4 linked regions of the Homo sapiens genome follow. The protein of the gene in region 2 purifies or fractionates together with the protein of the main gene of each other region. This does not show direct contact. Each region holds a gene or a part of one and is shown on either strand. Other genes may lie near its edges.

Region 1 (3,500 bases), on a different chromosome or scaffold from region 2:
TCAGTTCAGGCAAAATTCAGAGCTCCTTCACAGTTCACCCCAAGAACCCAGCTTCTGGAACCCAAGGACGTTGGCCTTGGATTGGGAATGCCAATAGGTAAAGAAAGGACAGGACAGGCACAGCGGCCCACACCTGTAATCCCAGCACTTTGGGAGGCTAAGATGGGCAGATCGCTTTGAGCCCAGGAGTTTAAGACCAGCCGGGGCAACATGGTGAAACCCCATCTCTACAAAAAATACAAAAATTAGCCAGGTGTGGTGCTCAAGCCTGTGGTCCCAGCTACTTGGGAGGTTGAGGCTGGAGAATTGCTTGAGCCCGGGGAAGCAATGGTTGTACAGTGAGCTGAGATCGCACCACTGCACTCCAGCCTGAGTGACAGAGTGAGACACTGTCTCTAAAATAAAACCAAACAACAACAACAACAACAACAACAACAAACAGAAAATAATTAGCCGGGTGTGGTGGCGTGCACCTGTAATCCCAGCTACTCAGGAGGCTGAGGCAGGAGAATCGCTTGAACCCAGGAGACAGAGGTTCCAGTGAGCCAAGATCATGCCACTACACTCCAGCCTGGGCGACACAGCAAGACCCTGTCTCAAAAATAAAAGAAAGAGAAAAAGAAAGAAAATAATTCTCCACTACTGTTCCCCAGTTAATGATGTGTACCCACAGCCCCCGTGCACTGTTGAGTTCTAGGAATCTGCTCCAGAAAAAGGACAGGGAAGAGGGATAAGCGGGCCTTATTTCACTCATAGCTCTTGGCCAGCTGCAAGTGACAGCCCTCCAGGTAGAAATAATACTGTTTTTCTCCTGCCTCACCCAGAACACCAAGGCCAGGGTGGGTCATGCAAGCAGTGTTCCTAGAATGTACACATATCGGATTTCAGAGCTGAGGCAGCCTTGAGGAGGGTGTGGAGAAAGCACACCTGCTCCTCAGACCTCCATGACAGAGAAGTATCCTAGAGCACTGGAGGAGTCAGGAAAGCTTCTGGGCTTCAGGAAGGGCGGGCTCCCTGTGCCCCAGCACAAGCCAACTCACCGCAGGATCTGGCACGCAGCAGGAGAAGGGGACCCCGCACTTCTCTCGGCTGTAGCTGGCACCGCTGCAATTGAAGTAGACGTTGAGGTCCCAGTCTTCAGGGCCATATGCGCCACAGCACTGGTTCTGCAACCACAAAAGCCAGAACTGTTAGGGGCTCCAAGACAGGGCCATGGCTGCCCAGCATAGGGCATCATTCATAGTGATGCCAGGCTAAGTCTGCCGGCATCTACCATGCAGAGAAATCAAGGCCCGCCCCCTACCTCCCATGTGCAGAGATGCTAAGCTGGCAACCCAGGCAGCCCTTTAAGAAGAAAACAGCTAGGCGTAGTAGCTCAGGCCTGTAACCTCAGTGACTCGGGAGGTTGAGGTGGGAAGATGGTTTGAGCCCAGGAGTTGGAAACAAGTCTGGGCAACACAGCAAGACCCCCACCCCCAATCAGAAAGAAAGAAAGGAAAGAGAGAGAGAAAGAGAAAAGGAGAGAAAGAAAAAAGGGGAGAGAGAGAGAGAGAGAGAGAGAGAGAGAGAGAGAGAGAGAGAGAGAGAGAGAGAGAGAGGACCTGCCCTTTTGATGTGTTAAAGAAAATAATAACAAAAAGGAAATGGCAGTGAAGGTATCTCCGGGCCACGGTGCCTCCTCTGTCCAACCCACATGGCTGGCTCAGTGGAGCCCTCTGGCCCCACTGCCAGGCACAACATACCCAGCCCTGGCCCTCCTTAGCAGGGAGCTTGCTCTTCTTCCCAGCCTCCTCAAAGGAGACGCCTCCTTCCAGCCTCCTCAGACAGGAGAGTGGCGTCCTCTCCTTTGTGGCCCCCTCGGCACCTTGGTGTGGTCCTCTACTTGCCACAAGAGAACACTTCCTAGTGTGCAGTGTTCTTCCTCCCTGAGAAACTTGCAAGTGAATTCCCCTTTTCACCCCTTTACAAAAAACAGCTGCTAAGTGTCTGCTCCTGAGGAAAAGAGGTCCGATGAAGGTGAAAGGTAACACAATCAAAGCTCTGCCCCACACCTGGGGCCTCTGCCCTCCCCTTCCTCGCATCTGGTGTGGCTACAAAGAAAATCCTTATTTGACTAAAAAGTGTGTAAAATCCAAACACTGAAAGCATCATTGTGAAGTTGACAGTGTCTTTTCCCCTAAAAAACTTCTTTGCATTTGCCCTTACAGCTGACATGGTTATGGCAATAATCACAACAAATGACAACAGTGATTTCTGGTTGGTTATTTTGTTTTGCTTACTTCTCAGGTAAAATTGTCTCCCCCACACCTCCACGGTTCCACTTGCTTTAGTGATTACCTGAAATTTCACTCCAAGGAAGCTCTGTAATTTACTGAATCCCTCCCCTGGGAAGTTTTGTTTTGTTTTGTTTTAATTTATTTATTTTATCTTTTTTTTGAGACGGAGTCTTGCTCTGTTGACCAGGCTGGACTGCAGTGGCGTGATCTCGGCTCACTGCCAGTTCCGCCTCCCGGGTTCACACCATTCTCCTGCCTCAGCCTCCCGAGTAGCTGGGACTACAGGTGCCCACCGCCACACCCCACTAATTTTTTGTATTTTTAGTAGAGATGGGGTTTCACCATGTTAGCCAGGATGGTCTCGATCTCCTGACCTTGTGATCCACCCGCCTCAGCCTCCCAAAGTGCTGGGATTACAGGCGTGAGTCACCGCGCCCGGCCAGAAGTTTTATTTTTAAAAGAAAAAGAAGTCAATGCAGAAAACTATGTTTTTAAGGCAATGCAGGGATGAACCGCAACCTAGCATGCTGAGACCAGGCAAGCCAAGGCTACGTGAAAATGAAAAAAGGACGGTGGCACTGAACAGAAAAGAAAGGAGAGGCATCAAAACATGGCGGGGATTTGGTGACTTTCACAGACTAATACACATTAGTAATAACAATACAGGCAGGGTCTTTGGTCCCATAAATGGGTTTTGCTGGATCCCATAATACATGAAATAAAGGTGAACAAGTTTTGGTTAATAATGAGAGTGAATCATAGATTTTTAATGGTTTCTGATTTATTTTCTTCTCAAAACCAAAGTGTTCCACATGAAAAGTTCTTAAGGAAGCTGGGCTTTCTGTCAGCACACAGATCAAACAAGAGCCTTGCATTGCACAGGCTGACATGGCCAAGGAGTGGGTTCCTCCCCAGGGGGCTGTGACAGCTATGGTCCAAGCGTCCAGGTGCAGCCACACATGAGAGAGATAAGAGGGATGGGGACCAGATGGAGTAAAGGCCATAGCCTGGAACTGCTTAGACAAACCCCTGGGCACATATTCCAGGGAGGTCACATTCCACTAGATCTGACAAAGCTTCCTCCAGGCAGCCCTGGCTTCTTAAACAGGAAGGGGAAAAGGTCCCAGGGAGGAAGGGGAAAAGGTCCCGGGGAGGAAGGGGATAGGAATAGCGTCAGATGGTGAGTCATGAGCCGGGGGGAAGAAGCTGTGCCTTACGGTATGC
Region 2 (3,500 bases):
GTCTACAAAAATCTTTAGAATTATGTAAGCATAATACATCCAATAATTTTCCATTGATCTGCAATATTGGAATTAGTAGCTAATACTTGAAATTTCTTATTGCTGCAAGCTAGTCTGGAAATTTTAAATTACAAAAGGACACTTGTTATTTCCAAAGTACAATATCTCTTCAAATAAAAAAAAAATTCCACTTGGTAAATAGTAAATAATGTCATCTCCATTTTCAAATGCCAGATTGCTAAAACATTCTTATATTTAGTAAGGAAGGCTTGATAGCCTGTGTTTTAGACAACTGAACTGCTTAGAGCTTCTTGCCTAATTTGGTCATTGGGCATCTGGCTGTGAATGACTGACATTTAGATTCCGTTAAGTGTTCGACTTCCCACTCTCATAGTACCTCAGCTGATCAAGGGGATTCTGCTTGAAAACTTCTCCTCCCTTCCTGCTCTATATGGAATAAAATCCAAAATCATCTGCTTGCTGTCAATCCTTCCCTCTCCGAAACTCGCCTATTTTACAAAAGTGATTCCTCCCATTCGCTTACCCCACACCTGGAGCTGTTTTGCATTTATCTTCAAATGCCCTGTCATGATCCTGTGTCATTCCATTTGGCATTCTCCTCTGCCTAGACAAGTGGATGTTACACAGAGTGAACATTTTGGGTTGTTACAACTAAGCACTCCTTAGTTGTGACAACCAAACTCAGTACCGACATCTAATGGGTAGAGGCCAAGGATGCTGCTAAACAGCCTATGATGCACAAGACAGGCCTCATAACCAAGTAAAAATGTCATAGTGTCCTGGCTGAGAAACCCTTGCCTAGAATACCATTCCCTTCATTCCAAGCCTGGCTAACATGCAGCTTACAAGTCACTTTGGAGACGACTTCTGAAAGTTCTTGAGGAAGAGCTGTTTGTGTCCTCAGGACAGAGCCCTTACAACACACCCCATCACTGTTTATAGTTTATATGGCTGTTATCAGTCGTATGTCTGTATCTGCCTCACTGTGCATGTGTGTGCATACAGAGACACAGACACACACACACGTGTCCCAAGGGCCCTTGCTTTGTTGATGCTTGTGCCACTGGCATATATGGCACAGTGCCTGACTCAGAGTAAGAATTCCACAAATGCTTCTGACTTGGTGGATGGATGGGTGAATGCATAAGAAACCTTGGGTTTTGCATGATCTTATCTCAGGTAAAGAAAAAGCCATCTTCTATTCACATGGATAGCTATAATTTACTTCTTAAAACCCATACTGGGAGCATAAACTAGCTCACCTTTTCCCAAAACCACAGTGATTCATGCACAGTAGTCCCAATTCTAACATTTCCTCATACTATGAGTCACTTCCTATTTATATTGACATTAATTTCCCTTTTTAAAGCTTAATTTATTGTAAAAGTCCCATAAATGGAAAGCTAGCATCAGTTATCATAAATATGACAGTAAAAAATAAACATGATGAAATTCTTGGATTCTGGCAGTCTCTACTTGATGAAGTAGCACGTGAAAGGCTGTGTCCGCTTGCTGTCCTAGAGGCTTCTCAGCATTTACCAATTAAAATCTTATGCACGTGCAGCACAATTTTGAAACACTGAGTGACATCAGTGAATGAGGAGGTGAGAACATTCAGTCATTCATACAGCAGACATTTAATGAAATGTCTTCAAAATGCCAGGCAATGGAGTATTTACTTGGGTAAAACAGTGACCAAAACGAGATACAGCCTTGCTTTCACTAAGTGATGGAGGCAGAGAGTAAAGGATCACAGGACCATATAGAGCCACCAAATGCATGAGTGCAAGTCTAGAAATGGTAGGAAGAAGTAATATGAAGAACCTTCAATAGTGCATACCAACTATCAGGTTGGTGCAAAAGTAACTGCAGTTTTTGCCATTACTTTTAATGTCATTACTTTGAGTAAAAAGAGAAGAACTTGATGACTAAACAGATTGCAGGTAGAGGGACAGCAGGGCATGGGAAAGGCAATTAAACGATGACCTTGGGAGACTGAGGAGAAGGTCCTGGTCACGTGAAATAGGAAATTCATCATAAATCACGGGTTTCAGGAGATGACAGATTTGCCTCTAGATAAATTGGGTTGGGGACAGAGAGTTGAATAACAATGTCACCGAAACTTAGGAGGGAAGTATAGATTTGTGACTCTGTTCAAATTCTTTTTTTTTTTGAGACTGAGTCTCACTCTGTCGCCCAGGCTGGAGTGCAGTGGCACAATCTCGGCTCACTGCAAGCTCTGCCTCCCGGGTTCACGCCATTCTCCTGCCTCAGCCTCCCGAGTAGCTGGGACTACAGGCGCCCGCAACCACGCCTGGCTAATTTTTTGTATTTTTAGTAGGGATGGGGTTTCACCGTGTTAGCCAGGATGGTCTCCATCTCCTGACCTCGTGATCCGCCCACCTTGGCCTCCCAAAGTGCTGGGATTACAGGTGTGAGCCACCACTCCTGGCCAACTCTGTTCAAATTCTTAACTGCTAAGCCCCACTTCCCTCATCTGTGAAATGGGACTAAAAGTACCATCTACCTTATAAATGTGGTCTTTCTTTTGTATACATATTACATGCTGGCACTGTTCCAAGGGCCTTGATTTAAAAACAAAAAACAACTTTTATTGAGTTTGAGCACTATGTGCCCAGCACAGTGCTATGCACTATGCATTATTTCAGTTAGTCCTCACAATAATCCTATGAGGCAGGTGGGGTTTTGAAACCCCATTTTACAGATGAGGAAATGGGCTTAGGAAGGTAAAGGAGCTTGCCATGGACACCCAGCCATAAGAGGCAGATAATAGACTTGAACTCAGGTATGGTCAAGAATCTGTACCGTTAACCAATCCACTACGTGAGTGCCCTCTAAGATGGTAAGAGTACTGCACACATGCAGCATGTGCACAGGTCAAGCGGGGGAAGCAGGTGGAAAGCCGGACTTCAAGTGGACAAGGAAGGAGTGGAAGTATTTTTTGCTTGTTTGTTCTTGAGACAGGGTCTCATTCTGTCACACAGGCTGGACTGCAGTGGCACGATTATGGCTCACTGCAGCCTTGACCACCCAGACTCAGGTGACAGGTGATCCTCTTACCTTAGCCTCCTGAATAGCTGGGATTACAGGCATGCACCACCACGCCTGGCTAATTTTTTGTATTTTTAGTAGAGACAGGGTTTCGCCATGTGGCCCAGGCTGGTCTCAAACTCCTAGGCTCAACTGATCTGCCTGCCTTGAGTGCTGGGTGCCCCTTGGAGAAGACTGGTGTGGAACTCAGGTAAAGTATAGTAACTTAAACATTTCTTTACAATTCATGTTCAGGGTAATGAGACAAGGAATATCTGCCCCACTGGATGTTGAGAATGGGAATCCAGATATACTTTCTGTGTAACACAGTCTATATAGAGGTATGCAGAGACTACTGTGGGTGATCAGAGAAGGGATTGAGAACTGGCTCTCAGAGGGTAAGGATTAGCCTGTTATGTAGGAGAACA
Region 3 (3,500 bases), on a different chromosome or scaffold from region 2:
CTGCAACCTCTGCCTCCCAGAAGCAAGCGATTCTCCTGCCTCAGCTTCCCGAATAGCTGGGACTATAGGTGCCCACCGCCGTGCTCAGCTACTTTTTGTATTTTTGGTAGAGACGGGGTTTCACCGTGTTGGCCAGGCTGGTCTCAAACTCCTGACCTCAGGTGATCCACCCATCTCAGCATCTCAGCCTCCCAAAGTGCTGGGATTACAGGTGTGAGCCATTGCGCCCGGCTTAATTATTCTTATATTTAATATAAAAATGGGATTGTATTAGACACGATTTGCAACCTGTTATTTTTCAGCCTTGAAATATATCTTGAACATCTTTCATTTCTGGTACATGTAGATCTCTTTCATTTTTTTTCCCCCCAGTGGCTTAAGAGTACTCCAGATGTACCATAATTCATTTAGCATTTTCCCTATTGATGATACTTGGATTTTTGAAGATCTCTTTTTTTTTCCTTTGTCCTTTTGTTATTGGCTATTGTAGGCAGTACTACAATAAATTTTTTTTCCTTTTTATAGGCATCTAGAGTTAAATGAATAAATGGGGCCGGGCACAGTGGCTCACGCCTGTTATCCCAGCACTTCGGGAGGTGGAGGCGGGCGGATCACAAGGTCAGGAGATCAAGACCATCCTGTGAATGGTGAAACCCCATCTCTACTAAAAATACAAAAAATTAGCTGGGCGTGGTGGCGGGCGCCTGTAGTCCCAGCTACTCTGGAGGCTGAGGAGGGAGAATGGCGTGAACCCGGGAGGCGGAGCTTGCAGTGAGCCGAGATCGTGCCACTGCACTCCAGCCTGGGCGACAGAGCAAGACTCCCTCTCAAAAAAAAGTGAATAAATGGGATCTTTTAAAAAATTAATACAGAAGTAAAATTCAAGATGACAGTTATGAGCTGATGCTTGCTTCGTAATATTAACTAGGTTACCTAATTTTTCTCAGTTTTCATTCTTAAAGCAATAAAATGTACAAGACCCCATCTCAAAAATATATGTGTGTGTGTGTGTGTGTGTGTGTATTTAATTTTTAATTTTTGTTTTTTTTGAGACAGGGTCTCACTCTGTCACCTAGGCTGGAGTGCAGTTGTGTGATCTTGGCTCACTGCAACCTCTGCCTCCTGGGCTCAAGTGATCCTTTTGCCTCAGCCCCAAAAGCAGCTTGGGACTACAGGCATGAGCCACCACGCCTGGCTAATTTTTGTATTTTTTGTAGAGATGGGGTTTTACCATGTTGCCCAGGCTGATCTTGAACTCGTGAGCTCAAGTGATCCACCTGCCTTGGCCTCCCAAAATGCTAGGATTACAGGTGTGAGCCACCGTGCCTGGCCTTTTTTTCTTTTTGAGATGGGGTCTTGCTCTGTCACCCAGTCTGGAGTGCAGTGGTGTAATCTTGCCTCCCACTGTAATCTCTGCCTCTCAGGCTCAAGTGATCATCCCACATCAGCCTCCCAAGTAGCTGAGACTACAGGTGTGTGCCACCACAATTGGCTGCTTTAAATTTTTTGTAGAGATGGGGTCTCCATGCATTGCCTAGGCTGGTCTCAAACTCATGGGCCCAAGCAGTCCTCCCACCTCAGCATCCCAAAGTGCTGGGATTTTAGGTGTGAGCCACCACACCCAGCCTTATATTTTTATTAGGCAATTTTTTTTTCTTTTCTTTTTTTTTTTTTTGAGATGGAATCTCTCTCTGTCACCTAGGCTGGAGTGCAGTGGCGTGATCTCAGCTCACTGCAACCTCTCCCTCCTGGGTTCAAGCGATTCTCCTGCCTCAGCCTCCTGAGTAGCTGGGACTACAGGTGCATGCCACCACGCCCGACTAGTTTTTTATACTTTTAGTAGAGATGGGGTTTCACCATCTTGGCCAGGCTGGTCTCGAACTCCTGACCTCAAGTGATCCGCCCACCTCAGGCTTCCAAAGTGCTGGGATTACAGGCGTGAGCCACCACGCCCAGCCAGGCAGTATTTCATATATACAAAATTATGCATTCTTTTTTTAAAAAGGTAAGTTATGCTGCAGTAATCAAATGCCAAAATTGAGAGTAATCTTATAACATGTTATCTGTTAGAATATGTTCATAGTTCTCTTTTATTCCTTTTTCTATTATTTTATATTATCAAAGTCGTTTTTCTCTTTTTAAATGAGTTTGGCTTGACTTTAAGCTTCGGGAAGGACAATAGAGGCAATAAAATTCCTTTTTCATGTGCTTTTCCTCAGCTCTTTAGAAGGAGAAGTACATTATTCTGCAGAAAAAGCTGTGAAGTTTATAGAAGATCGGATAACGGAAGAATCTAAAAGTTCTCGCCATCTCCGAGGACCACATCTAGCTAAATTGGAGCTGATTAGGCGTTTACGAAGTCAAGGTTGTAACGATGAGTACAAACTGGGTAAGAAACCATGATATCTGGTAAGCCTGGAGAATGCCCTTAATACCCAAGTGCTATATTCATTAGTTGAGATCTACACTGGACAGAGTCATGTTTGGGAAGCAGATGTCTTCATAGCCTGAAAATATTTGCTAATGAATGGATCACTTATAAAATTAGTCCTTTATCATATATTCACCTTGGCTTAACATTAACTTATCTCCCTGTTCCGTCAGAGTCTTTGTCAGGCATTCTGTTGCTGACCCAACAATAAAGTCAAAATCAGCTGGTTGCGGTGTCTCACGCCTGTAATCCCAGCACTTTGGGAGGCTGTTGTGGGTGGATTGCTTGAGCTCAGGAGTTGGAGATCAGCTGGGGCAACATGGTGAAACCCCATCTACAAAAAATACAAAAAAATTAGCTGGGCATAATGACGCACATCTGTAGTCCCAGCTACTCAGGAGGCTGAGGCAGGAGAGTCTCTTGAGTCCAGGAGGCAGAGGTTATAGTGATCTGAGATCGTGCCTTCACTCCAGCCTGAGCGACACAGCCAGAACCTGTCTCAAAAATTTAATTTAAAAAAATAAAAAAACCTGGCTGGGTGCATTGGCTCACACCTGTAATCCTAGCACTTTGGGAGGCCGAGGTGGGCGGAACACCTGAGCTCAGGAGTTCAAGACCAGCCTGGCCAACATGGCCGTAACCCCGTTTCTGCTAAAAATACAAAAAATTGGGTGGATGTGGTGGCTCATGCCTATAATCCCAGCACTTTGGGAGGCCGAGGTGGGCGGATCACCTGAGGTCAGGTGTTCAAGACCAGCCTGGCCAACATGGCCGTAACCCCGTTTCTCCTAAAAATACAAAAAATTGGGTGGATGTGGTGGCTCATGCCTATAATCCCAGCACTTTGGGAGGCCAAGGCGGGCGGATCACCTGAGGTCAGGTGTTCAAGACCAGCCTGGCCAACATGGTGAAACACCGTCTCTACTAAAAATACAAAAATTAGCCAGGCATGGTGGCACACGCCTGTAGTTACAGCTACTTGGGAGGCTGAGGCAGGAGAATTGCTTGAACCTGGGAGGTACAGGTTGTGATGAGCTGAGATCTTGCCGCTGCACTCTAGCCTGGGTGA
Region 4 (3,500 bases), on a different chromosome or scaffold from region 2:
AGATAGATGGAGATTGCTTTCTTGATTGCTCAGTAGTCTTGGCAATTTAATTTTCAATCTTTACTGTTGGCATTTCTGTATGGTTGGCAAATCTTGCTAAAGAGACCTGTTTCCTAGATGTTAACACTTAGTAATAGCAGTGCCTTTTCTTAGTTGATATGCAATACTATATTTTCAAGTCATTTTATTCTTAGCTCTTTATAAATGTATTTAGAGTTCTTCCCACCCAAGTTAAAGTTCATCAATTACATTAATTATGTAATTGATGTAATTATGTATTAATGTAATTATGTAATTAATGTAATCTTCATCAATTACATTCTAGTTTGTCTTTTTGCAGCAACATGTATGTTTAATACAGCCTTCCAATTATTAAGACTCTTAACACTTTGTCTCATCACAAGTAGCAAATATTGTCCAATTTTATATTTGCATCACTAACTTTGAGTCAATATTATTCCCACTCTATAATTTCAGTCAATGATATTTCATAATTTTCTTAACCATTCCTAAATTATTTGTTTTTATGCTCTTTCTATTTTGTCTCTATTAAAACAAAGAATGTAATGAACATTTGGGTTTATAAAGCGTTTTCCATACTTCTTGTTTCTTTAGTGTAGATTTCTGAGGAATTAGTTAAATCTATAAACATGTTGAGATTTTTTTAATGCATACTGTCAAATTTATTTCCAAACATCTTATTTCACCTCTCAATCATCCGCAGTTTGTGCGGTCTTTGAGGATTGTGAAAAACACGTTTAATCTACTCTCTCAAAGTCTGAGGGTTTTTAAATTCTGTATAGCTAATGCCCTTTTGTATGAGTCATTTCTACTGCTAATTGTTAAGTGAGGAATAAGCTTAAGAACTGATGTACTGCTTTATCTCAAATTTTCACAGATTAGTAAATTACTGTAAGTATTCATAAGAAAGAAAGCGATGGCACATGCAATGATAATCCATGTTCGGCTACCAAAACATTTCCTTTTACTGGCTATTTCTAAAATGAGAGCTAAAGTAAAGTTAGAAATTGTAAAATAATACTGAATGTGTCATGTGAAAAAATCACTAAACTATTATCTGCACTTTATAGTTATTCAGTCTAACTTTTCTTTTTATTTCTTTTTTATTTTTAAGATCAGAGTTATTTACCCATTGTTTTAGGCTTTGCATTTGAACTGGTCATTCATGAAACATTGAAAGGTTTCATAAAAATTACTACTCTATGAAAGGTATTGTTCTAAAGATTGAGAACACATTGTGAACAAGATAGTCATATGCATAGCTTGTGGCCAAGAATCTACTGTACACAAAATTAAGGAGCAAATTCTCTTCCCAAACCTATTATCCTATTTGTCAATCTCATTTGTACAGGGTAAGGCTAACTCTTGAACAGTAGGTGAGTTTTTTGCAAGGGAATTGAAGCATTGCCCCAGGTTCTAGAGGGTCAACTCCTGTGAGGAAACTTGTTACTGCATAAATTGGGACTAAAGCCAGACCTCCAAGTTCCTGTCCCACTGTCTTTTCACTTATCTGTCTCATCCATTTTTCAAGTCCACCTTTGTCTTTAGGAGAGATAATTATGTCCCTCACACAATACGCTATACTGAGAATGGGCTGTGGGGATGAACAATGTGAAAACTGAAAAGAGGAAGAACACATCTTAGGAAAAAAATCGTCATATTTTCTCTAAGAAAATAAATAACTTCATAAAGTTTATTGTACAGGAAGACTTGGATCATTCTTGAATTTTCATTGCAAATCAAAAACAGGAATTTGACTTTATTATCTTGGGAGAAATAGGAATAGAAAAGTGTATAAAAAATAAACTTTTTTTAACCAAGAATAAATTGCAGTAACAGGTTAAGACTCTGGGTGTCGCTGTTCACCAATCAGGGGGAAAAGACAAACCAGAAATTTAATCAGAATCACAAGATTTCTGCAGCACAAAGCACTGGCTCTGGAGCTTTATGAAAGCTTCAAGCGGAAGCCCTGAGAGCTCTGGCTGTGAATGCACTTTATTTTGGACCCAGAAGATCCTGGGGCTCCTCAGGCCTCGACAGAGGGAAAACCGAAGCACAGGCGACTCCGCGGCGGGGTTGTAATGGCGGCGCCTCCTGCTCGCCCAGACCACACCCGGCTGCTCCAGATCTGCCTTCTCCTGGGGGTTCTGGTGGAAATCAGGGCCGAACAGATTCTCTACTCGGTGTTTGAGGAGCAGGAAGAAGGCTCAGTGGTGGGCAACATCGCCAAGGACCTGGGGTTGGCGCCCCGGGAGCTGGCGGAGCGCGGAGTCCGCATCGTCTCCAGAGGTAGGACGCAGCTTTTCGCCCTGAACCCGCGCAGCGGCACCTTGGTCACCGCGGGTAGGATAGACAGGGAGGAGCTCTGCGACAGATCTCCAAACTGTGTGACAAACCTGGAGATTCTTCTAGAAGATACAGTGAAGATTTTGCGGGTAGAGGTGGAAATAATCGATGTTAATGATAACCCACCCAGTTTTGGGACAGAACAGAGGGAAATAAAAGTTGCTGAAAATGAAAATCCTGGGGCAAGATTTCCTCTTCCTGAAGCTTTTGATCCGGATGTAGGTGTAAACTCCCTGCAGGGTTACCAGCTCAACTCAAACGGTTACTTTTCCCTGGACGTGCAAAGTGGGGCCGATGGGATTAAGTACCCAGAGCTGGTGCTGGAACGCGCTCTAGATCGCGAGGAAGAGGCGGTTCACCACCTCGTTCTCACGGCCTTCGATGGAGGTGACCCGGTTCGCTCTGGCACTGCCAGGATTCTCATAATACTTGTGGATACCAACGATAATGCTCCCGTGTTCACTCAGCCCGAGTACCACGTAAGTGTTCGTGAGAACGTTCCTGTAGGCACTCGGCTACTCACCGTAAAAGCCACTGATCCAGATGAAGGAGCCAATGGAGACGTGACGTATTCTTTCCGGAAAGTAAGAGACAAAATATCACAGCTATTTCAGTTGAATTCTCTGAGTGGGGATATAACAATATTGGGGGGTCTAGATTATGAGGACTCTGGATTCTATGACATAGATGTAGAAGCCCATGATGGGCCTGGTCTCCGAGCTAGAAGCAAGGTACTGGTGACAGTTCTGGATGAAAATGACAACGCACCAGAAGTCACAGTTACATCTCTCACCAGCTCAGTCCAGGAATCTTCTTCCCCGGGTACAGTAATTGCACTTTTCAACGTGCATGACAGTGACTCAGGAGGAAATGGCCTAGTCACATGTTCTATTCCAGATAATCTGCCATTCACACTTGAAAAGACCTATGGAAATTATTATCGGTTGTTGACACACAGAACACTGGACAGGGAAGAAGTCTCAGAATATAACATCACTGTAACTGCCACTGACCAGGGAACTCCTCCACTGTCTACAGAAACTCATATTTCACTGCAAGTGATGGACATCAATGACAACCCACCCACTTTCCCTCATGCTTCCTACTCTGCTTACATTCCTGAAAACAACCCC

The links. Proteins that work in one complex are often made in the same cells at the same time.
Region 1: the proteins of CDH2 (region 2) and TSPAN14 fractionate together in Homo sapiens (co-fractionation; one large-scale study listed by BioGRID). This does not show direct contact.
Region 3: the proteins of CDH2 (region 2) and NAA25 purify together in Homo sapiens (co-immunoprecipitation; one study listed by IntAct). This does not show direct contact.
Region 4: the proteins of CDH2 (region 2) and PCDHGB1 purify together in Homo sapiens (co-immunoprecipitation; one large-scale study listed by IntAct). This does not show direct contact.

The regions. Positions count from the first base shown.
Region 1 is NC_000010.11:80,509,810-80,513,309, reverse strand, and holds part of TSPAN14 (tetraspanin-14), read right to left. Parts: intron 1,167-3,500; coding exon 1,041-1,166; intron 1-1,040. UniProt on the Homo sapiens protein: Part of TspanC8 subgroup, composed of 6 members that interact with the transmembrane metalloprotease ADAM10.
Region 2 is NC_000018.10:27,995,631-27,999,130, forward strand, and holds part of CDH2 (cadherin-2 isoform 1 preproprotein), read right to left. Parts: intron 1-3,500. UniProt on the Homo sapiens protein: Calcium-dependent cell adhesion protein; preferentially mediates homotypic cell-cell adhesion by dimerization with a CDH2 chain from another cell. Cadherins may thus contribute to the sorting of heterogeneous cell types.
Region 3 is NC_000012.12:112,070,784-112,074,283, reverse strand, and holds part of NAA25 (N-alpha-acetyltransferase 25, NatB auxiliary subunit), read left to right. Parts: intron 1-2,219; coding exon 2,220-2,389; intron 2,390-3,500. UniProt on the Homo sapiens protein: Non-catalytic subunit of the NatB complex which catalyzes acetylation of the N-terminal methionine residues of peptides beginning with Met-Asp, Met-Glu, Met-Asn and Met-Gln. May play a role in normal cell-cycle progression.
Region 4 is NC_000005.10:141,353,099-141,356,598, forward strand, and holds part of PCDHGB1 (protocadherin gamma-B1 isoform 1 precursor), read left to right. Parts: intron 1-1,922; exon of another isoform or gene 1,923-2,009; coding exon of another isoform or gene 2,010-3,500. Other genes in the region: PCDHGA4 (protocadherin gamma-A4 isoform 1 precursor), read left to right, coding at 2,010-3,500. UniProt on the Homo sapiens protein: Potential calcium-dependent cell-adhesion protein. May be involved in the establishment and maintenance of specific neuronal connections in the brain.